Homo sapiens: one gene and its partners. The protein of the gene in region 2 interacts with the protein of the main gene of each other region in a pairwise test. Each region holds a gene or a part of one and is shown on either strand. Other genes may lie near its edges.

Region 1 (8,118 bases), on a different chromosome or scaffold from region 2:
TTGAAAAAAAACACAATCTCACCATCCTAACATTAATTTTAGTTTTATATGTCTCCTCCCATTGGTACAGGGATTTTTACCTAGCTCTAATTACAGTCATGCATCACTTAACGATGGGGATATGTTCTGAGAAATGTGTCATTAGGCAATTTTGTCATTGTGTGAACATTATGGAGTGCACTTACACAAACCTAGATGGTATAGTCTACTACATACCTAGGCTACATGGTATAGCTTATTGCTCCTACGCCTCAAACCTGCACAGCACATTACTATACTGAATACTGTAGGCAATTATAACACCATGGTAAATATGGCTCAAGCCTGTAATCCCAGCCCTTTGGGAGGCTAAGGTGGGAGGACTACTTAAGCCCAGGAATTTCAGACCAGCCTGGGCAACACAGGTTAGGAAGACCCCGTCTCTACCAAAAATAAAACAATTGCCCAGGTATGGTGGCATGTGCCTGTAGTCCCAGCTACTCAGGAGGCTGAAGTGAGAGGACTGCTTGAGCCCAGGAGCTTGAGGCTGCAGTGAGCTATGATCACACCACTGCACTCCAGCCTGGGTGACAGAGCAAGGCCCTGTCTTAAAAAAAAAAAATGAAAAAAAAAAGGATAAAAAATGGTACACCTATATAGGGCATTTACCATGAATATAGCTTGCAGGACTGGAAGTTGCCATGGGTGAGACAGTGAGTGAGTGGTGAATGAATGTACTGTAGACTTTATAAACACTGTACACTTAGGCTACACTAAATTCATGTGTAAAAATTTCTTTCTTCAATAACAAATTAACCTTACCTTACTATAACTTTTTTACTTTATAAACTTTAAAATTGTTTTAATGTTTTGACTCTTCTGTAATAACACTTAGCTTAAAACACAAACACATTGTATAGCTATACAAAATACTGTATTTTCTTTTTTATATTCTTATTCTATAAGCTTTTTTATAATTCTAAAAGGTTATTGTCTTTTGAAACTTTTTAAACTTAAAAACAAAGACATAAATGCACACATTAGCCTAGGGCTTCACAGGGTCAGGATCCTCAAGACATCACTATGCGAAAGGAATTTTTCAGCTCCATTATCATCTTATGAGACCACCGTAGTATATGTGGTCCAATGTTGTATCACATGACTGTATAACTAGAGACATCTTGCTCTTTTACTCCCAGCTGTGGACAAACAAGAAACTTTGCTGTTGTGGCTGCAGGAAGGCGACCCAATGTTTCTCTAATACTTTGTACAACGTAGTCCTCATGCCCACTATGTGTAACAGGTCACAAATATTCATTAATAAAATATAGTCAAACCTTTAGGAGTTCACAATCTAGTGAGAGAGACAGGCATCATGGTGCACTGTTGTTTTTCCAAATGCCCATTGCTAATCTGTTCATTTTATTCTTCTGTCAAAGCAGTAAAGACAGAAGAGAAGATGTGAGTCATCCCAGAGTCACAGCCCTCTGGAAATGCCTGAAATCCATTCTTTCCTGTCCCTCAGATTACTGTAAGGACTTCAAGGTTCTCTCCGACCCTTATAGCTGTATGAAAACACTTTTTCTGATAGGAGAGCCTCCACCCTCTCTCTAAGGAAAGTAAATCCTTTCTTAGTCAAGCTCTCCCTTTTCCACACTCCGGTCTTTCCCTGGAATGTCTCCTCTGTCCTTCCTCCCCTCCTCCTTTCCCATTATACATCTCACTAACCCTCAGGAAAATAGCTTTAAAATTTTCCCTCTGGAATGGGGCCCAGTCCACAGAGCACCTACCTTTGGTATAAGTCAGATGTTAAACTCAATTACCTACGAAGGCCAGGCAGAACAGCGTTCTTCTGACTTTGTTTGCATATTAAGTTCATGGAACATTCTCTACTTTCACAAAGAAACATGATCATTTTTTTCTTGAAATATACAGCCCTTAGTTAAGCTTTCATTTGCACAGTTTTGACAGATAAGAATGCAAGAACTATTTCTTTTTCCTCCCAATTCTACTCTAATGTTAGTAACTGGCAGAGGACCTTCTGAGTAACAGAGAACATTGCCCTCTAAAAGGCTACTCAGCAGCCACTGTTTGCCAGATGGAACATGGGCCTGGTGTTGCTGTGTTGCTAGATCTTCTGACCTTTCAGGAGACAAAAATCCAGATATTTTTATGAAAAATCATGTTTTCAAAATGCTGATGTGGACGAAAGAAAGAGAGATCAGACTGTTACTGTTGTCTATGCAGAAAGAAGAAGACATAAGAAACTCCATTTTGTTCTGAACTAAGAAAAATTCTTCTGCCTTTAGATGATGTTAATCTGTAACCCTAGCCCCAACCCTGTGCTGGCAGAAACATGTGTTGTGTTGACTCAAGGTTTAATGGATTTAGGGCTACGCAGGGTGTGCTTTGTTAAAAATGTGTTTGCAGGCAGTATGCTTGGTAAAAGTCACCGCCATTTTCCAGTCTCAAGTACCCAGGGACACAATGCACTGCGGAAGGCCGCAGGGACCTCTGCCCAAGAAAGCCTGGGTATTGTCCAAGGTTTCTCCCCACTGAGACAGCCTGAGATATGGCCTCGTGGGAAGGTAAAGACCTGACCGTCTCCCAGCCTGACACCAGTAAAGGGTCTGTGCTGAGGAGGATTAGTGAAAGAGGAAGGCCTCTTTGCAGTTGAGATAAGAGGACGGCATCTGTCTCCTGCTCATCCCTGGGAATGGAATGTCTCGGTGTAAAACCCGACGTACATTCTATTTACTAAGATGGAAAAAACCGCCTTATGGCTGGAGGTGAGACATGCTGGAGGCAATACTGCTCTTTACTGCACTGAGATGTTTGTGTAAAGTCAAACATAAATCTGGCCTATGTGCACATCGAGGCATAGAACCTTTCCTTAAACTTATTTACGACACAGAGACCTTTGCTCACATGTTTTCCTGCTGACCCTCTCCCCACCATTATCCTATAGTCCTGCCACATCCCCCTCACCGAGATAGTAGAGATAGTGATCAGTAAATACTGAGGGAACTCAGAGACCAGTGCCGGGTCCTCCGTATGCTAAGCGCCGTCCCCCGGGCCCACTGTTCTTTCTCTATACTTCATCTCTGTGTCTTATTTCTTTCCTCAGTCTCTCATCCCACCTGACGAGAAACACCCACAGGCGTGGAGGGGCTGGCCCCCTTCAGTGGACAGCTAATTCAAGACAATTTAAAATGCTCCAAAGTCTAAAGCAAACAAGTTCACAGAGTGCAGAAGCATTGCCAGTGTACAGCTTCTGGCACTGTAAATTCTAATGAGTATTTTATTATATTTGCTTAATTTACAACAGACAATAATATAATTATGCCTTTGACAGACATCAATAATCTGTTTCTGTATTCATTCTCCATATTTATAGAGTATTGTGTTTTCTAGCTGATTTCCACAACATATTGTTAACAGTGCCTTAGGCCAAACTACTCTTCTTTCCCAACTATTCTCTTTCTTCCCTACAAAGGGAGTTAAAACAAGGAGCTGTTAAAACTTGGAGCCAAATTAGAGATTAAATTACATTAGCTTTAAACGGTTTTGTGAAGTGGCTAGAAATTTTTACCAGTAATCTTACTGCAAGTCCTGGGTCACTGAAGAACTCGGTAAATATGATTAGCATGCACGCACCAACACATCACTGTGATGAAAACGCAAATCACAGTATGTGAGTCACTACTCTCAACATTGCCATGCCCCTGCCTTAAACCTGCCAGCCCCATCCAGAGGATTTTTCTCATCTCTGAACTCCAATCATTTACACCTTCCCCCATCAGAATTTACCCTACATTTTATTATAATTGCATATAAATATGCCTTCCCTGTAACAGCAGGGACTGTGTTTCTCCACTGTATGGCCTGGCACAGTGTCCAGCACACAGCAGGCAAAGCAAGAGTTACTGCATGAGCCAGTGTCATCATCCAAACGATAGCTACCATTTCCAGAGCACCTACCGTGAGCTGACTAGTTTACCTACATTATCCTGGTGGCTTTCCCAGACCAGACCACCCAAACCAAAGCAGCCCCCCAGTCACCCTCTAGGCACATAACCCTATTTTAGTTCTCTGAATACGACTGATTGCTGTCTAACATATTTTGGTTTGTGTGCTTATTGTCTGTCACCGGTTTCCCTTCACAAGAAGGAAAGCTCCAAGAGGACAGGCATCTTATCTACCTTGTACTTGGCTCATAGCAAATAAATGAATCTAAGCCGCCCACCTCCCTGGGTGACAGAGTTGACCTGCACACAGTAGGTCTCAAAGAGTATGTTTTAAATTTTATATTTAGATTTCAAGATAATTGTGTTGAATATTTTATGGTTCATAACAAACAGAAAGGGGAGGGCAGAATAAAAATAAATAAAAGTTTAGTTACATTACCCTAGCACTGACATTGGTACGGGAATTTTTGCTGCAATAAGAAAGCCACTTCCTCTGACATAAGGTCACCCATACTTCTGGGTCTTGCCACATCCTCTTAGACAGTTCATCGTAGCTGGGCTGGCTGGGGCGGTCAGGACTCCAGACGCTCACACTAAAAGAGGGGTGGTAGTCGAGCAGTCACTCCACTCCTCTGTAGGGAGCTGGCCGCGAGTGGGTGCGCAGCAGGGTGCGCGCGGACCCGTGCAGCGCCCAGGGCGGCTGTGCGAAGCCGCCGCAGCCTGCGCGCCCAGGCGATTCTCCACCTTGGGGCTCGCCTTCCTGCCGCGTTCCTCTTCCTTCCATCCCTAAAGCGCGTACGCCCTGCAGAGTCAAACCTGGCGCATCCTCAAGCTTCCAGGGGGCAACGTGACCGAGCCCCGCATCACGTGTGCAGAGACGGCCTATAGTGTCTGAAGGATGCCACCTAGTCGCAGGCCCGGCGGCGCCACCAACAGCGACCGCGGTAGTCCAGCTCGCGCCGCGTCCCGGCCCCAGCCCGGCCCGGCCCAGCCCCGCCCCGCGCCCAGCCCCGCCCCGCCCCGCGCCCAGCCCAGCCCCCGCGGCCCGGCCCCCAGCGGCCGGCCTCCCGCGGCCCCGCCCCCGCCGCCCCAGTCCCCGCCCCTCGCGCCTTCGTTTATTCCTCCGCGCGCTGGGACAGGCTGCTTCTTCGCCAGAACCAACCGGTTGCTTGCTGTCCCAGCGGCGCCCCCTCATCACCGTCGCCATGCCCGGAGGTCTGCTTCTCGGGGACGTGGCTCCCAACTTTGAGGCCAATACCACCGTCGGCCGCATCCGTTTCCACGACTTTCTGGGAGACTCGTAAGTGGCCACCGCGTAGCCCTGTCCTGGCCTCGGTTGCGCCGGACTCGGAGGTGCCTTCCCTGTTTCTTCTCCCTGCCGTCCTCCCGGCCGCTCAGCCCCCTGCGCCGCCCTCGCCTTCCCCCGCACTGGTTCCGGCGCGCGCCAGGCCGTGTGGCCTCTGCTCAGCGTCGGCTGCGCTGCTGGGAGCTGGCACCCGTTCGGCCTGCCCTGCGCGGGCCACTCGATCCCTCCTGGCCTCCCCGCCTCCGGCGTGGCTGGGCAAGGCCACGCCAAGGTGGGGGGTGGGGAGGATAAAATTGTGTTCTGCGGGTTCTGGAAACTCACCGCCCGCGGGAGGGTTTGTTGTCCATTTAACTCGTCTTAGTAAACTGTGCAGGTAGCGTGGTCAGGCCGAGGGCGCAGGGGCGGGGCGGCATTGACGATCACTTCCCCGGACTAGTGCCCAGGGTCGCACCGCCCTCCCACCCTCCGTTCTGGAATTTGCTCCCTGGGGAGGATGGGTGTCTAAAGCCAAAGTCGGAGGACACAGCTGCTGGCTATAGGTTACAGGAAGGCCAACGTATCATCTGAGGGTGCAGTGGTATTTGCAGGCTTCTGGGCACAAAATGTGAAATTTAAAACCACTAGCTGCCAAGTAGGTGGCCGAAAGACTTTTTGTCCAGAGCCGCCTCCAATGGCCAAGATATGATTTGATAACAGCTTTAGGAAGAGCCAAGAACACTCTGCGTAGGTGTGCCTTCAGAGATTCCAGAACTTGCAACACTTGGAGGGAAGGACTTTCTGACGCTGTTCCGCTGGAGTGGCCTATTCTTGCTAGTGATGGCCGTTCCAGGCTCCAGGACACGTGTACTCCCCAACTTTGAGACTCTCTTGTTTTCCAGTGGCTTGCCCCTCACTGTCCCCTCCGCTTTCTACCTTGCTTCTAGCACATGAGCTTGCTGATGATAGCCAAATTGATGACCTGTGATCTGACTTGGCAGTTTTACCATTATGGATAGGAGTAGTAAATCGGTGTTGCCCTTTTTTTTTTTTAACAGCTCCTGAATCAGCAAACTGGAAGTTGCTTAGTTTTCATCAGAAGCATTCCAGGCATGTCTAGTTATATTATGGTTCTGGAGTACTAGTGGTCCCACTACACTGTGGGGCTCCAAGGCTTGACAACAGTTCTTCCCCAGATTATATCCTTTTTATATACAGTATCCAGGGAGACAGGCTTATGAAATTAATCAGTGATTGGACAGGGCTGTGCAGAGAACCAGGGACAGATTCTTACACATCATATGCCTATCCAACCCTTTATAACCTCTTAAGTCCCTTTTCCAGCCACTGAATAGGGAAAAGTTAAGCTTTGTGAAAGATAGGACTAGGCCAGAAAAAGGTTGAGAAATGGAATATTCAAACCTTGAATGCAGAAAAATACTTTAGAAATACAGCTTATGGCCATTCTTATACTTAGGATCTAGGTAGTAATATTTCTCCAGCAATCCTTGGGATTTTTAGAGTTGTGTTCCTTCCCATTTCTACCTGCAGCCCTCATCCCCCATCCCCATGAAACATAAACTATTTCCAGAACTCTTAGCTTGTATAGATTAAATATTAGCATAAAACGTATTTACTGTGCCAACAGTTATAAATGCTGTCACTTTTTAAGCTAACCATACTTTTTTGGGGTTTTGTTAATGTTTATTGGCCTCTAGATCCATCTAGATTTGATCAAAAGTGGTACTTTATCAGGGAGCCATAGTTAGGAACACGGTAGAAATATCTGCATTTATTAACTAATATACAAGTCTGCCTAGGATCAGGTATAGTATTCCCTACCTTACCGGGAAGAGAAGTTTGAGCCTTTTATATGTTTATAACACATGGATTTTTGCCTGATTTTTCCAATTTTCTATTCTGTATATGATCCCAAATCAGACTGTCAATTTTTGATCCAGGTATTTTTGAGAAGAAAAAATTAAAATGTATTTCTCTACCTTACCCCTGATCATTGTAAACAACTAAAGAGGTTGGGTGCTACATTGGGTGAGTTTACCTTATCGCTGTTTCTTTAAGTGGTAGAAGCAGCTTCTTCATAGTACATCTTCACTAAGCAAAATATGTGTTTTCCAGGGGTCTTCTGGGGCTTAGTAAGTGGGAACCATTCTCTTGAAGGAGGAAACCTTTTGTCTTTTGAAAATGGGTAAGAAAATGGGAGCATGTCACTGAATTACTCTTAAGTGCAGCAGTAGGAAGACTTGGAGGGGAAGGAAGGCCAAGGTAAGACATTCTTGGAGTTTATCCTATTTGTAGCCATGAGGTAAACTGGAGTTTCACTTCTGAGGGAGGGAAGGACGTGAACTGGCTTAAAACCAGTTCCTTTTGCATGATTCAGCAAAACAGTCTTTATGGACTCACAGTGGAAAAAGAACTCCTAACTTTTCTAATTTATCCTCCTTTTAACGATAGAGGAGGAAACGCCCTGTTCCATTTCTTCTCAACTTCTGGAGACCTTCTGTTAAGTCTCATCTAACCATTAAATAGATCGTTTTCCATAGAATCTAAGGCCTAGATTTTACTCATAGTGATATTATCTACTTCAAAAGATATACTCTATGTTCTTCCTTTTGCCCTTCATAGTAAAGTGAACATAGTGCACACCTCCACAATCTTAAAAAAAAATACTAACTTTCCTCCCAGTCTTGCCATAGGGCCCTCCATCCTTTTTGTAAGAAGATCTTTTTCCTTCTTGAAACCTTGGGAGTTGAGTGGCAGCCGTAAGTAGGAAGGAGGTGCCCTTGTCTTTGCTTGTTCTCTGTGCTCAGGGAAACTTCAGAAAGGTCAACTTGGCATCTAGGCTAGATTTAGTTATCTACTAGTTTAGGA
Region 2 (7,157 bases):
AGCCAGAGCCTTCCCCACGACTCTCCCCTGACCCCACAGAAGAGACGCCTCCCAGACACAGCAGCCTTCACATCTGGACTGGTCCCCGCTCAGGATAAAGGCAGAGCACTCATCCATTAAATGTTCCCCAAATGCCCTCTCTCATCGCTAATCCCCAAAATCCAACAAGCACAGCCACCTGTCAAAAAACACCCCACCCACAGCAAACATCAGCCTGAAGTACAAGGCCACTAAAGAGATTACCACCCAAGGACAAGGCACTCAGAGAGCAGAGCTCAGAAGAGCAGACCGGACCCCTCCTGGGGCCTCTAGGAGCTCCGACACGGCCAAGCTCTTTTGGGGCTGTGGGGTTCCACAACACAACCATGTAGTTGGTACCAGCAGCACGCAAGTGAACTTGCTGGTTCACTAAAACATATCCCTATCCAATGCCTCACTGTAAACATACTGGATGCTGGCTTTCTCATCTGTGTCTTGCTCTCTTCCCCATCTCCTTGAACACCGACAATGAAGCATAATCTCCCCCGTTCTGGGCCCCCAAGTAAGCATTCTCCCCAGCATAGCACCTGGCAAGGAAGACTCACAGAAACCACTGGCTGAATGGAGTCAAGTCCACTCCTGGGCCTGAAGTGACACCACCGAGGACAGCAAAAGGATGACTCACCCTTTCACTAAAGGCCCCCAACTGCCAGGTAGTGGTAGCTTCCCCTCCTTTTTGTGCACTTCGGCCCATCCCCTGCTGCACTGATCTGACGGAACTAAGGAAGGCCCGAGACAGCTCTGCCGCTCCGAGAAGTTCAGCTTTCTTACAGCTACAGACAGCACCCCCAAAATGCCCATTTTTACACAGCTCTCGAACCCATTTCAGAGACAATTTTATGATAGAAATAATAATCTGCATTAATTTTCTAAGGCGAGGACTGGAGGAAAGAAAAGTCGGCAACAAAGCCTGCTTTCACTTAACACCCTGCCAGGGTGCTGACTTGAAGGCTGAACCCTGGCCCCCACCCCTCCCAGTCACTCCTTCCACCCAGATCTGCTCCAAATCGGAGCCTGTACAGTTAGCTACTGATACACAGCTGTCTCTGCAGCATCCACCCCCCAGGGGCCTTCACAAGCTGAGCCTCTAGAGGCTGCGCATGAAGCAGGGCAGTCTGGCATCGGCAAAGCAGCTAGCCCTGGACAGACAGAAGTCAGAGGGCGTCCTGGGGGAGTCAGAACCACAGGCCTCTCTGCCTGAGTGATGGCTTCAGGGCAGAGCCTGGGGGCTTTGTTCCCACTGGTTGGTAGGAAACAGAGGGATGGGCAGGGCCAGGCTGAGCAGACCTGCCTGCAGTCACTGAAGACTTTGAGAAGGACCAGCAAGTCACACCAGGATACAGGAGTCCCTGGTTCCCCTCCACAGCCTGCCAGTCTACCTACCCAACCTTTCCTTGGCTGACCTTGAACAAATTATGCAAGCCCCATTCCAGCTGAGGAATGAAAATCCGGCCCATACTGGAAGCACAGAGGGGAAGGATAGTGTATCTATCACCCAGCACAGTCTGCATAATACTTACGTAACCTCTGTCTTGGGGGTACACATCCTTCTTGGCTCATCAGCTGAATGGCAATGACAGCTGCTGTGCTCACCGTGCCCCCACCCCACCCTACCCCATACACCTACCCCCAAAATCACCTCTTTGAATTCAAAGCACCCCAGAGCCTGTCATGCATAAATTTATCCAAAATATGGAAAAAGTTACGTATATAAAGATGCTAAGCCCTGGCACATAATAGGCATTCAATATAAATGTGTTTGATGAGTGAATGAGCAATGAGCATCAAAGTATTATTTAGCAATGGGGAAAAAAGTAGAAACTTGGAATCTGACAATAGGAACTCATTACAATGCAACCAGGAAGTAAGAGCTCCCTCTGCAGGCTCACTGTTGCAGCATCACCAAGAGTGGGGGAGTTGGGGAGACCCTCAACTAGCAATGACCTCCACTCCCTGCCTGCTCCCACCTCGGCCTAAGGAGAGCTGATCTCAGGCTGAGGAGACCAAGTGCCATCAGAAGCACTGGTTGCTTCTGACCTCAATACCATGCATGGATTTTATTCTAAGGGCCACCAAGAGCCACTGTTGAGTGACTACCACATCTGTGTTTCAGAAGCTCACTTAACCAGCAGTCTGGCAAAAACGTAAATAATATCCAGTGTCAGTGAGGGTGTGGAAAACAGTCACTCTTGTTCACGCCAAGGGGGAGTACTACAGGTACACTCTTTTTGGAGAGCAATTAACCCAGCATTAACCCTAGTGGCAATTCCACTTCTAGGAACCTGCCCCACTGTAGCAACCAAGGCACTACTCAAAGATGTGTATATGAGGATGCTCACTGCAGCAGTATTTGTAACACAAAACCCAGAAGCAACCTAAAAGTCCATCAAAAGGAAAATGAATGAATAAAAATTAAGGTACTATACTTGCAAACTAAGGAGTACCATATGGTAATCAAAAAGAATAAGGTGGGTGGCTCATGCCTGTAATCCCAGCACTTTGGGAGGCTGAGGTGGGCGGATCACTTCAGGCCAGGACTTCCAGATCAACCTGGCCAACATGGCAAAACCCCGTCTCTACTAAAAATAAAAAAAAAATAAAAAAAAAAAATCACCCAGGTGTGATGGTGCACGCCTGTAATGCCAGCTACTTGAGAGGCTGAGGCACAAGCTTAAACCAGGAGGCAGAGGTTGCAGTGAGCCAAGATCATGCCACTGCACTCCAGCCTGGATGACAGAGCGAGACTGTCTCACAAAAAAAAAAAAAAAAAAAAAAGAATAAGGTGGATGTATGTGGTGGCATAGAAAGCTAGCTATGAAGCTACGATAGCCGTGCGCAGTGGCTCATGCCTGTAATCCCAGCACTTTGGGAGGCCGAGGTGGGCGGGTCACCTGAGGTCAGGAGTTCGAGACCACCCTGACCAACATGGAGAAACCCTGTCTCTATTAAAAATACAAAATAAATTAGCCAGGCGTGGTGGCGCATGCCTGTAATCCCAGCTACTCGGGAGGCTGGGGCAGAAGAATTGCCTCAACCTGGGAGGTGGAGGTTGTGGTGAGCTGAGATCGCGCCATTGTAATCCAGCCTGGGCAACAAGAGTAAAACTCCGTCTCGAAACAAAAAAAAAAAAAAGAAAGAAAGCTAGCTAGCTATGATACAGTTAAATGAAAAAAGTCAGAAAATTTGTAATTCCATGTAATTGGAGGAAAACCTTTTTACACATCTTTCTATGTTCATGAATGGATGGGAAAGCATGTGGAAGGATACAAGCCAATCTGCAAATTGGGGCTGGCTTAGATACGCTTCTGGAGAAGGAGGTTTAGGGAAGGAATGCACTTCAAATCGAATTTTCATTTTTTGTTCTGCTTCATTATTTAAGCTGTTTGTGTATACTAATAATTTGTTTAAGGATAAAGAATTTCAATACAAAAATTAGCCGGGCGTGGTGGTAAGTGCCTGTAATCCCAGCTACTTGGGAGGCTGAGGCATGAGAATCACTTGAACCCAAAGGCAAAGGCTGCAGTGAGCCAAGATCGTGCCACTGCACTCCAGCCTGGGTGACAGAGCGAGAGACTCCCTCTCCAAAAAAACAGCACTTTAAAAGCCAACCACTGTGCCTGAAATTGAGCTGTGTTGTGTCCCAAATCACGTTCCAAGGCTGCTGCAGTAGCAATGCCAGAAGGCTACCTAGAGTGTCCATACAGATTGCAAGAACAGATTTAAACTACACTGAGATGGAAGAGTTATCAGGCAAGGTCCGTCGGGGCACATTTCACTCCCAGGTGACCACTAGTGGCTTGGCCACCCTGCCAGAAATCATGAGCAGGAAAGAGCTCCCTAACTTCAGGGTGCACAAGAATCACCGGAGGCGCTTGTTCAAGAAGAGCCTGCCAGAAGAGATGGAACTCCTCCTGCCCTACCTCTCAGCCTGTGCCTAACAGGCAGGGCTGCCCCCAGGTGCCACTGAGAAGCAGCAGCTCAGGGCGGTTCCTGCACTAAGCACCTACCAGGCCCCCGCCTGGTAGAAATATGCTCTCTTCTCTGCAGAGGCTCCCTCAAAAGGATTCAGGCATGTGCCAGGCATGGTGGCTCACGCCTCTAATCCCAGCACTTTGGGAGGCTGAGGCAGGAGGATCGCCTGAATGCAGGAGTTCGAGACCAGCCTGGGCAATACAGTGAGACCCTGTCTCTTTTAAATAAAAAATAAAAAGAAATAAATAGTAATAATAGAAGGATTCAGGCAGATGAGCTTTGCACCCCTAGAGAGCCAACAACTACTGCAATGGTTGATACAGGGAGCAGGGTGGCCATGGGTCTCCAAGACTCAGCTAAAAACAGCTGGGAGGAAAGGCCTTAGGCCTAAGGAAGTTGTTACAAGGAATGAGTGAAACAGGCAGAACAGCAGAAGTATCTGGCATGGAGTAAGTGTTCAACAAATGGCAGTAATAACCATAATCCACTACACTGGATACTCTGTCTGCCCCTCCAGATCCATTCTCCTCCCTTCCACCCTGCTCTGTGCCCCCAGAACTGATCATTATGGACTGCTGTCCATGGGCTTATGATTGGGCTTAGCCTTTCAACGTGAGGTACTTGCAGAAGACGGGAGTTTAGGGAAGAATGAAGTCGGGGTACTCACCCCGAGTCTCCCTCCCTGCTAGGCTTCAGATGGGCAATGACTACCTTCCTCTACCCAAGGCCACAGCTCCTGCCAAGAAGCTCCCTCTCTTGTAGGCCTCAGGGTGTTAACAGACCAGACCTGACACCCCATCCACAGCTTTGCAAATGATGTCTTCATTAAACTCTCCTGGATTACCAAGTGTAAGTGTGCACCAGATCCCTGCAAAGACGCTAACCAACAGAGCAATCACAACCATCATCATCATCATTGCCATCATCTTATGATTCTGCCAAGGAAGAGAGTACTATGGAAAAGTCTCTGGCCCCGCTGTTTCACCAACACCATTCTAGGTGGTTTGTCAGGGCAGAACTAGGCCAGCCTATAGGAGGGGTATCAGACCAGCCAGTGATCACAGAAACAGCACCTCTTCCTAGCCCTGAGGACCAGGAAAAGCAACTTCCCCAGCAGAAGGCAACCCTAGCTCTAAAAGCCAACATGGGGGCGAACACAATCAGCAGCTCGCTCACACACATGCACGCATGCACACACACACACTCCAGCACTTTCTCTTTCTTGCCAGGAAGAAACAACCCAGGGGAACAGTTCCTGGTTCAAGCTCCAGGATGCTGGCAAAGGCTGATGGCCCTGTGTTCTGGTAGCAGGTCTGCGTACCCAATGCAGCTGTTCTCTCCCTCCATTCTTCCACAACAGTCTCGCAGTGGGCAGTAGAGCTTTCCAGGGGTAGCTTCTATTTTGAAACACCCTGGCAGCTGGGCCACCACCAGCACAGCTGAGTTCCATGCTGAGCTCCTGGGCTCAAGAGGTTGCTGACTCAGGGCAGCCTGCCCACCCACCTATCAAGGGGAGATGGCCTGCGCTGGCAGCCAGTACACTATGGTCTGGATCCCAGGCATACCTGGGGCTCCTACCTGACCTAAGGCACCTCAAGTTCCCTGGAGCCTCACTGCTTGGCTTGACCAGGTAGGGTTGAGACAGACAGTGCTTGGGCAGGAAGCCTCGGGAATCAAATAGACCTGAGTTCTAACCCACCCCACCACTTTCTAGGTATGTGACTTTGGGCAAGTCGCAACCTCTCTACTCCTTTTTCTTCAGCTCTAATATGGAGAAAGAGAGCCTGGATGGCGTCACTGTGAGGACTGAATTAGCTCGTTAATATACAACACTTGGTACAGTGGCTGGCGCTTGGTAAGCAGGGAATACACACAGTATTTTATCACAAGTTTTCATTTTGTATATTTATTATAATAATGGCTGCTAAGCATGTTCAAAAGGTCACCCTGAACCACAGGGTCCAGAGTCCTTCATGTCCACAATGAGGCATTGTTTAGCTGAACAGGTCCTGAAAGAATGCCTCCCACCAGATCCCAGGGAAAACGGACCCTTATAATAGACACTCAGCACCACTGTCCTTGCAAGAAATAGAGGTGACTCCATTGTCCACTGCCAGTTGGCCCGCACACAGCCATGCACAAGTTCACTCTGACTGGTGTGGAAAAATAATGTCTCCCATCTGAACACCAATTTTGACTTTCCAAAAGGCATTCACATCTGTTAGCACCTTGCAAGGGTCCCTTGGAGTGCAACTGCAATGTGAGAGCACCACCATTCAGACCAGGCCTTGAATCCCAACTCCACTCCTGCCAGGCTGTGTTACCTCACCTCTCTGTGCTCGAGTCTGCTGACCTGTGAAATGGAAACACACTATCTCTCTCCCAGGGTATAGGGTGGTGAACTCAACATCACAGAACATTCGTTGAGCCCCCAGAAAGGTGCTGAGCAAGCCCTCAATCAGCAATCACTGTAATGACGACAATCATACTTTTATAGCAGACAAACTCGGCCGGGCTCAGTGGCTCACACCTGCAATCCCCGCACTTTAGGAGGCCGAGGCGGGTGGATCAGGAGGTCAGGAGTTCAAGACCAACCTGGCCAAGATGGTGAAACCCCATCTCTACTAAAAAATACAAAAAAATTAGCCAGGCATGGTGGCAGGCGCCTGTAATCCCGGCTACTCGAGAGGGTGAGGCAGAGACTTGCTTGAACCCGAGAGGTAGAGATTGCAGGGAGCCGAGATTGCACCACTGCACTCCAGCCTGGGCAACAGAGTGAGACTCCATCTAAAAAAAAAAAAAAAAAAAAGAGAGAGAGAAACTGAGGCACAAGACAGTGACTTGACCTGTATGAGACCGACCCTATGGCTCACCAGACCTGTGTTATGGGCCTAAGCTACTCTCCAGTGCTCTTTCCAGCACAGTTCTGAGTAAAGAACTTAAAGTCCCACTCATCCCAAACCCCCTGAGTACGTGGTAAAATGGAGAAATGCGCCCAGACCCAGCTGAGGAGCCCACTGGTCAACTTTTCTCAGTGGCTACCACAGGACTCCATGGAAAACCCAAAGCCGCAGACTACAGAATCTCTGAGCACCAGGAGGGGCTGCCTCCAAGCTTCGGCTGGTCCTCAACCACACATGCGCCTC
Region 3 (7,000 bases), on a different chromosome or scaffold from region 2:
AGAGGGTGTACTGGCATTAGGCTGAGCTAAGCACAAAACACATATATTCCTTTCACTCTTCTAGTGCCTGTAGGAGGAAAGGGAGGCATATGTGTGCTTGTGAAGGATTCCATTCATCAGAATCCCAGACATCTGCCAGTTCTGCAGCTAGAGGCTGGGTTCTTTGACCTCTAAGTAACTTTAAACACGCATCTCATCTCGCCAGCTTCTTCCACTCGGTTTAGCCATTAGGAGCTTGGAGCAGGGTGAAGGATTGCATAGTGCTCTGTTTGTTTAGAAAGGGAAGATGGGTCCAGGAAGGTCAGAACTTGGCTTCTAAAGAAAGATTAGACTTCCTTTCCTCCAGGCTTGTCAGAATGGTGAGCAAATGCCAGTGGATTTTCTCTGGGCGAGATCCCCATAACGCTAAGTGATTTCCACTAGTAGGTGATCATGAAAAGGGTGTCATTTCTTTCCTCATTGCCTTGAGGCACATCAATAATTCAACTCCATAAAAATATATCCTGGGTTGAAACAGTTCAGGTGTCTGACTTCCCAGTTTGGAACCCCATTATCCAGACGGCATCTGCATAAATTGGTTAATGGGTGCTGTTGAAGAGAGTGTGATTTGTCCAATGGCCGAACTCAGGAGTCCTTGAGTACTTGACCCAGGAAGACAGGGGAGAGTAGGCTTAGCAATTAAAGGGTTGCCCAAGGTACATTCCTTAGAGCCTATGTGTTCCAGCTGCAAAAGCAAGCATTAAAAATAAATAAATAAATAAAAGGCCGATGTAGTGGCTCACACCTGTAATCTCAGCACTTTGGGAGGCTGAGGCGGGTGGATCACCTGAGGTCGGGAGTTCGAGACCAGCCTGACCAACATGGAGAAACCCCGTCTCTACTAAAAATACAAAATTAGCTGGGTGTGGTGGCGCATGCCTGTAATCCCAGCTACTTGGGAGGCTGAGGCCGGAGAATCACTTGAACCTGGAAGGCAGAGGTTGCGGTGAGCCGAGATCACGCCATTGCACTCCAGCCTAGGCAACGAGAGCGAAACTCCGTCTCAAAAAAAAAAAAAAATGCCCATTCATTATTGCTCAGGGGTGAGAGAGGTGATAGTTAGAAAATTGTGAAAAATCTGGCTGGGCACAGTGGCTCATGCCTGTAATCCCAGCACTTTGGGAGGCTGAGGCAGGTGAATCACGAAGTCAGGAGTTCAAGACCAGCCTGACCAATATGGTGAAATCCCGTCTCTACTAAAAATACAAAAATTAGCTGGACGTGGTAGCATGCACCTGAAGTCCCAGCTACTCGGGAGGCTGAGGCAGGAGAATTGCTTGAACCGGGGAGGCGGAGGTTGCATGAGCCAGGATCATGCCACTGCACTCCAGCCTGGGCAACAGAGCGAAACTCTGTCTCAAAAAAAAAAAAAAGAAAATTATGAAAAATCTGTGGGTTCTTGCAGTGGCAAAGAAAAAAAAGAAAAAATTATGAAAAGTCAGCCTGGGCAACAAAATTAAACCTCATCTTAAAAAAAAATTTTTTTTAGCCTGCTTTGGTGGCATGCACACACCTGTAGTCACAGCTACTCAGGAGGCTCATTGAGCCCAAAAGATTGATCCCAAAACAGTGAGCTGTGATGCTATGATTGTGTTACCGTACTCCAGGCTGGATGATAGAGCGAGACTCTGTCTCAAAAAAAAAAAAAAAAAAAGAAGAAAGAAAATTATGAGAAGTGTCTCATAACCTCTCAATTCTGATGTTGTACAAATATTCAGTGAGAGCTTCTTGGTGAATCTTGACTTTATAATCCCTGCCTTTCCTACCTTAGATACTCCTAGGGTTTCTCCCAAGAGAAGCCCCATCACTTTATCTGGTTGGATAGTTTGGGAATGTCATGAAGGAATAAACTGGCAGGCAGGGTGTCTGTGAGGTGCTTTCACATCTGGCCAAGCTGTGCCATGCTCCCACGCTCCTACTGTTCTCCGGAGAAGACATAGGCAGCTTTCCCCTTACAAGACTGATTTGGCATGACTGGGACTGTCTGTGTGTGTCTGCAGTCAGGGATTCCTGGCAGACAGATTTAGCCACTGGAATCACCTCTGAGCATGCCTGAGAAGGTCCAGGGAAGACATGGATAAAGACAGGGAGCTGTATACCTCTGCATCCAGGAATCAGTTGTGGTCAGACTGCTGGCACCTGCTTATGGATTTGTTTTTATTTTTTTATAGAGACAGGGTCTCACCATATTGCCCAGGCTGGTCTTGAACTCCTGGGCTCAGGCAGTCCTCCCGCCTTGGCCTCCCTAAGTATGCTTATTGATTTGAAAACCCTGAAGATCAAATCTGATCACAGGAGCTCAATCATTTCTTTAAAAAATGTTTGATTTTTTTATTATGTGCAGAGGACTGTGCTAGGCTGGGGTGACAACTATAAACAAGGCAGAAACGGTCCCAGTTCTCATGGAGCATAAAATATTTGCTGGCCGGGCGTGGTGGCTCATGCCTATAATCCCAGCACTTTGGGAGGCCAAGGCAGGCTGATCATTTGAGGTCAGGAGGTCGAGACCAGCCTGACCAACATGGTGAAACCCCGTCTCTACTAAAAATACAAAAAAGGTGCCAGATGTGGTGGCTCATGCCTGTAGTCCCAGCTTCTCGGGAGGCTGAGGCAGAAGAATCACTTGAACCTGGGAGGCGGAGGTTGCAGTGAGCTGACACTCCAGTCTGGGTGACAGAACGAGACTCCATCTAAACAAAAATAATAATTAAAAAAAAATGAAGTATTTGCTGTGTTATATGTGCAAAGCATATGGGCTATGAGGGCCCACAGCATGGTGTGGTCATACCTTGGGTGGGAAATCCCTAGGCTAGGAACTGCTTACAGCTAGGCTGCAGATGTTAGCTCCTTAAGTGCTTCAGGAAGCTGCTCCCATCCCCAGTTCTGGGGATGTGTTAGTCTGTTTGGAGTAGCAGGACAGGTGCCCACTGCCTTCTGGCCTAATAAACCTTAACAACGGGATCTTTTGCAACCACTTAATATACACTGGGTTGTGTTCATTGTATTTGATCTTAAAGAAAAATAGGTAAAAATTTTACAGTTTGATTGGTCTTGATTTCTGGAAATAACATTGACTTCTGGTAAACAGTACACATCAGGGATATTATACTTAGAAACTTTGTAAGGTGGAGTCAAAATTAATTGTCACAAAAATGTGTATTTTTTTTTTTTTTTTTTTTTTTTGAGATGGAGTCTTCGCTCTGTTGCCCAGGCTGGAGTGCAGTGGCACGATCTCAGCTCACTGCAAGCTCCGCCTCCTGGGTTCTCGCCATTCTCCTGCCTCAGCCTCCTGAGTAGCTGGGACTACAGGCGCCTGCCACCACTCCCGTCTAATTTTTTGTATTTTTAGGAGAGACGGGGTTTCACTGTATTAGCCAGGATGGTCTCGATCTCCTGATCTTGTGATCCGCCTGCCTCGACCTCCCAAAGTGCTGGGATTACAGGTGTGAGCCACCACACCCGGCCATGTATTTTCTTATTCTTTTTTTTTGAGATGGAGTTCTGCTCTGTTGCCCAGGCTGGAATGCAGTGATGTGATCTCGGCTCATTGCAACCTCTGTCTCCTGGGTTCAAGCGATTCTCCTGCCTCAGCCTCCTGAGTAGCTGGGATTACAGGCACCAGCCAATGCTCCTGGCCTGCATTTTTTTTTTTTTTTTTGAGATGGGGTCTCACTCTGTATCCTGGGTTGGAGTGCAGTGGTGTGATCTCAGCTCACTGAAACCTCCATCTCGCGGGTTCAAGTGATACTTCTGCCTCAGTGCCCCCCCCTGCCCCCCAGTAGCTGGGATTACAGTCGCCTGCCACCATGCCCGGCTAATTTTTGTATTTTAAATAGAGACTGGGTTTCACCATGTTGGCCAGGCTGGTTTCAAACTCCTGACCGCAAGTGATCTGCCCGCCTTGGCCTCCCGAAATGCTGGGATTACGGGTGCCAGCTACTGCCTCTGGACTGCATTTTTTTTTTTTGAGACAGAGTCTTACTCTGTCGCCTGGGTTGTAGTACAGTAGCACGATCTCACCTCCCTGCAACCTCTGCCTGCCAGGTTCAAGCGATTCTTCTGCCTCAGCCTCCCTAGTAGCTGGGATTACAGGTGCCTGCCACTACACCCAGCTAATTTTTTGTATTTTTTGTAGAGACGGGGTTTCACCGTGTTGGCCAGGCTGGTCTTGAATTCCTGACCTCGTGATTCACCCGCCTCGGCCTCCCAAAGTGTTGGGATTACAGACGTGAGCCACCGCGCCTGGCCGCTTTTTTTTTTTTTAATGGCTTTTTGTCTCTGGGCATCCTGGAACACTTCGTGAGTGTCATGTCGGGTATGAATTATATATATATGTAATTGAGATTACACTATAAATGTTTCTGCACACAACTATACTAACATATGTGTAGGTGTGTGTATGCTTTCATATGCTCTTTCAAAAGCCTCAGCGAGGTTGTCAGTACAGGAAGTATTATTCCCGGGCTTCCCAGCACGGCTCCCTCCCCAGGGCATCCTGCTGCCTGCCTTGTGTGTTGCAGACAGAAGGCAAGCAATTTATTCCCCATTTAGAAACAGAGACTGAAGGCCCATCCAGAGGAGATAAAACATTTTTCTAAGGTCGAAAGAAAATCAGGAATAGGATTCAGAGGGCTCTTCTTGCTTCCTCTGTTTCCTTCTTTTAGGAGAAAAACCTGTCCTTGTTGATTTTAATGTTTTACCTTGGAACCTGTATTTTAATACTGTCCCCTCACAAATCAATACATTTGAGTTAATTTTTTATTATGAAATATTTGAGGCACATAAAAGAAGATTGAGGTTCACATAAACACCTCTGAGTCTGCTACTCAGCTTGAGAAGTTATAGACACAATTACAATTACATTACAGACACAGTTGAAGCCCTTTCTATGCCATCTCTGAGATAGTTTGCTGCTTCTCCCTTCGGAGGTGACCTCTGTCCTGAATTTGGTGTTTATCTTTTCATGCATGTTTTTACGCTTTTATTACATATGCATATGTCTATAAACAGTATATGGTATTGCTTTATAGATATATGGTTTTGATCTTTTGTAAATGGTGCTATACTGACTATGTGTTTAAGCAATATATGGTATTGCTTTGTGTGGTTTTAAACTTTTTTTTTTTTTTTTTTTTTTGAGATGGAATCTCATTTTGTTGCCCAGGCTGGAGTGCAGTGGCACGGTCTCAGCTCACAGCAACCTCTGCCTCCTGGGTTCAAGCAATCCTCCTGCCTCAGCCTCCTGAGTAGCTGAGATCATACCTGGCTAATTTTTTTGTATTTTTAGTAGAGACGGGGTTTCACCATGTTGGTCAGGCTGGTCTCAAAATCCTGACCTCAAGTGATCCACCTGCCTAGGCCTCTTTCCAAAGTTCTGGGATTATAGGCCTGAGCCCCCACACTCAGCCAGTTTTAAACTCTTATAAATGGTGCTATACTGTATGTATCCTTCCGCCATTTACTTTCTTTTAGCTCAACATTGTATTTTTGAGATTTTAAAAATGTTGATCTACGTAACTGTTTCATTAAACTGCTCTGGTTTCTTACAGAGTATAAAAGCTCCCTAGTTAATTCATCTATTCTGCTTTTGATAGGCATTTGTGTTTCTAATGTTTCAAGTGACAAACAATGCCTTGGTGAACTTTCTCTAGAACAACTCATTCAGCGCATGCACAAGTTTCTCTAGGCTCTAAGCTGTGTACCTAGGGCTGAGATCACCAGGCGGAGAGATGTGTGCGTTTTCCCATATACGAGATTCTGCCAAGTTGCCATCCGTGGTCATGCCAGTTCACACTCCCATCGGAAGTATGTGCAGGTTGCCTTTGTTCCACACCAACCCTTGTTATGGTCAAACCTTTGCAAATTTGTAATAGATGAGTTTTAGTCTGTTTCCTTCCTCAGTTGTTTCCATTCACATCACAGTATTCGAGCTGTGTTTAAAATTAGCCCATTTCCTGAGTTACCTTATCAGAGTCCTTGCTTCAGAGTCCCACGGACTGAAGTTGACAGCTCCATGGACTGCTGCTGCTGAGATATCTGCACTGGGGAGGGATAGTTGATGCAGGGAAAGGCTTAGGATGGCTCTCCATGGCCCCTGGTGCTGTGGGCTGACTCCGTTAAGCTTTTCTGGGAGTTGAAACACACATTTGTGAGCTTTCACTTGCACACACTTTCTCTCTTCCCGGGTGGATCCGACCCGGGTAGGGCAGGCTTATCTGTTGCGTAAATGTGCCCAGCTCTGCTCAGAGAAAACTCAAGCCAGCAGCCTCTCAGACCGTCTTCCGTAAAAGGAGAGGGTGGCTGTACCCACGTGGCAGGGAAAACTGAACCGTGAAGTCGGCGGCTCAGCCCTTTGCACACAGAAGCTGAGCTGTCCCTGTGCGAGGCAGAAAATGTCGGCTCATGTTCATCTTGAGTCTATGCCTGATTACAGGCTCCAGACTCGGAGACCTCGAGGGTGCCTTACAGGGAAGGGGGCATTCAGTGCCTACTAGGCGCCCGGCTTTTCTTTTTCTTAGCAGGGGTCTTATTTAATCATTTCTAGTACTCATATGAACCAAAGCCAACATTCATTGTTGTATTCATTGCCATGTACTGTGCTAAAGGCATCGTGAGCCTTTGCTTAGTTCATCCCCACAACGCCCTTGTGAGGTGGGTGTGATTTCAGACGGTGAGGCCCAGATAGTGAACGATAGAGCCAGCATTCAGCCTCATCAAGGCTGATGGCAGAGCTCCTGCTTTTATTATTTTCTCAATTGAGTTATAATTCACCTACCATGAAACGCATCATTGTACAGTGTACAATTCAGTGGTTTCTAATAGATTTACAAGGTTGTCCGAGCACCATCACCATCTAATTCCAGAATATTTTCATCACCCTCCGAAAAAAACTACCCGTTAGCAGTCACTTCCCATTTCTTCCTCCACCTAGCTTCTGGCAACCACTATCTACCTTTTTTTT

The links.
Region 1: the proteins of VDAC1 (region 2) and PRDX6 interact in binary tests that used the Homo sapiens proteins (3 or more experiments, as listed by UniProt).
Region 3: the proteins of VDAC1 (region 2) and HK1 interact in binary tests that used the Homo sapiens proteins (3 or more experiments, as listed by UniProt).

Annotation. Positions count from the first base shown.
Region 1 is NC_000001.11:173,472,246-173,480,363, forward strand, and holds the start of PRDX6 (peroxiredoxin-6), read left to right. Parts: upstream 1-5,089; 5' UTR 5,090-5,152; coding exon 5,153-5,247; intron 5,248-8,118. UniProt on the Homo sapiens protein: Thiol-specific peroxidase that catalyzes the reduction of hydrogen peroxide and organic hydroperoxides to water and alcohols, respectively. Can reduce H(2)O(2) and short chain organic, fatty acid, and phospholipid hydroperoxides.
Region 2 is NC_000005.10:133,994,916-134,002,072, forward strand, and holds part of VDAC1 (non-selective voltage-gated ion channel VDAC1), read right to left. Parts: intron 1-7,157. UniProt on the Homo sapiens protein: Non-selective voltage-gated ion channel that mediates the transport of anions and cations through the mitochondrion outer membrane and plasma membrane.
Region 3 is NC_000010.11:69,321,847-69,328,846, forward strand, and holds part of HK1 (hexokinase-1), read left to right. Parts: intron 1-7,000. UniProt on the Homo sapiens protein: Catalyzes the phosphorylation of various hexoses, such as D-glucose, D-glucosamine, D-fructose, D-mannose and 2-deoxy-D-glucose, to hexose 6-phosphate (D-glucose 6-phosphate, D-glucosamine 6-phosphate, D-fructose 6-phosphate, D-mannose 6-phosphate and 2-deoxy-D-glucose 6-phosphate, respectively).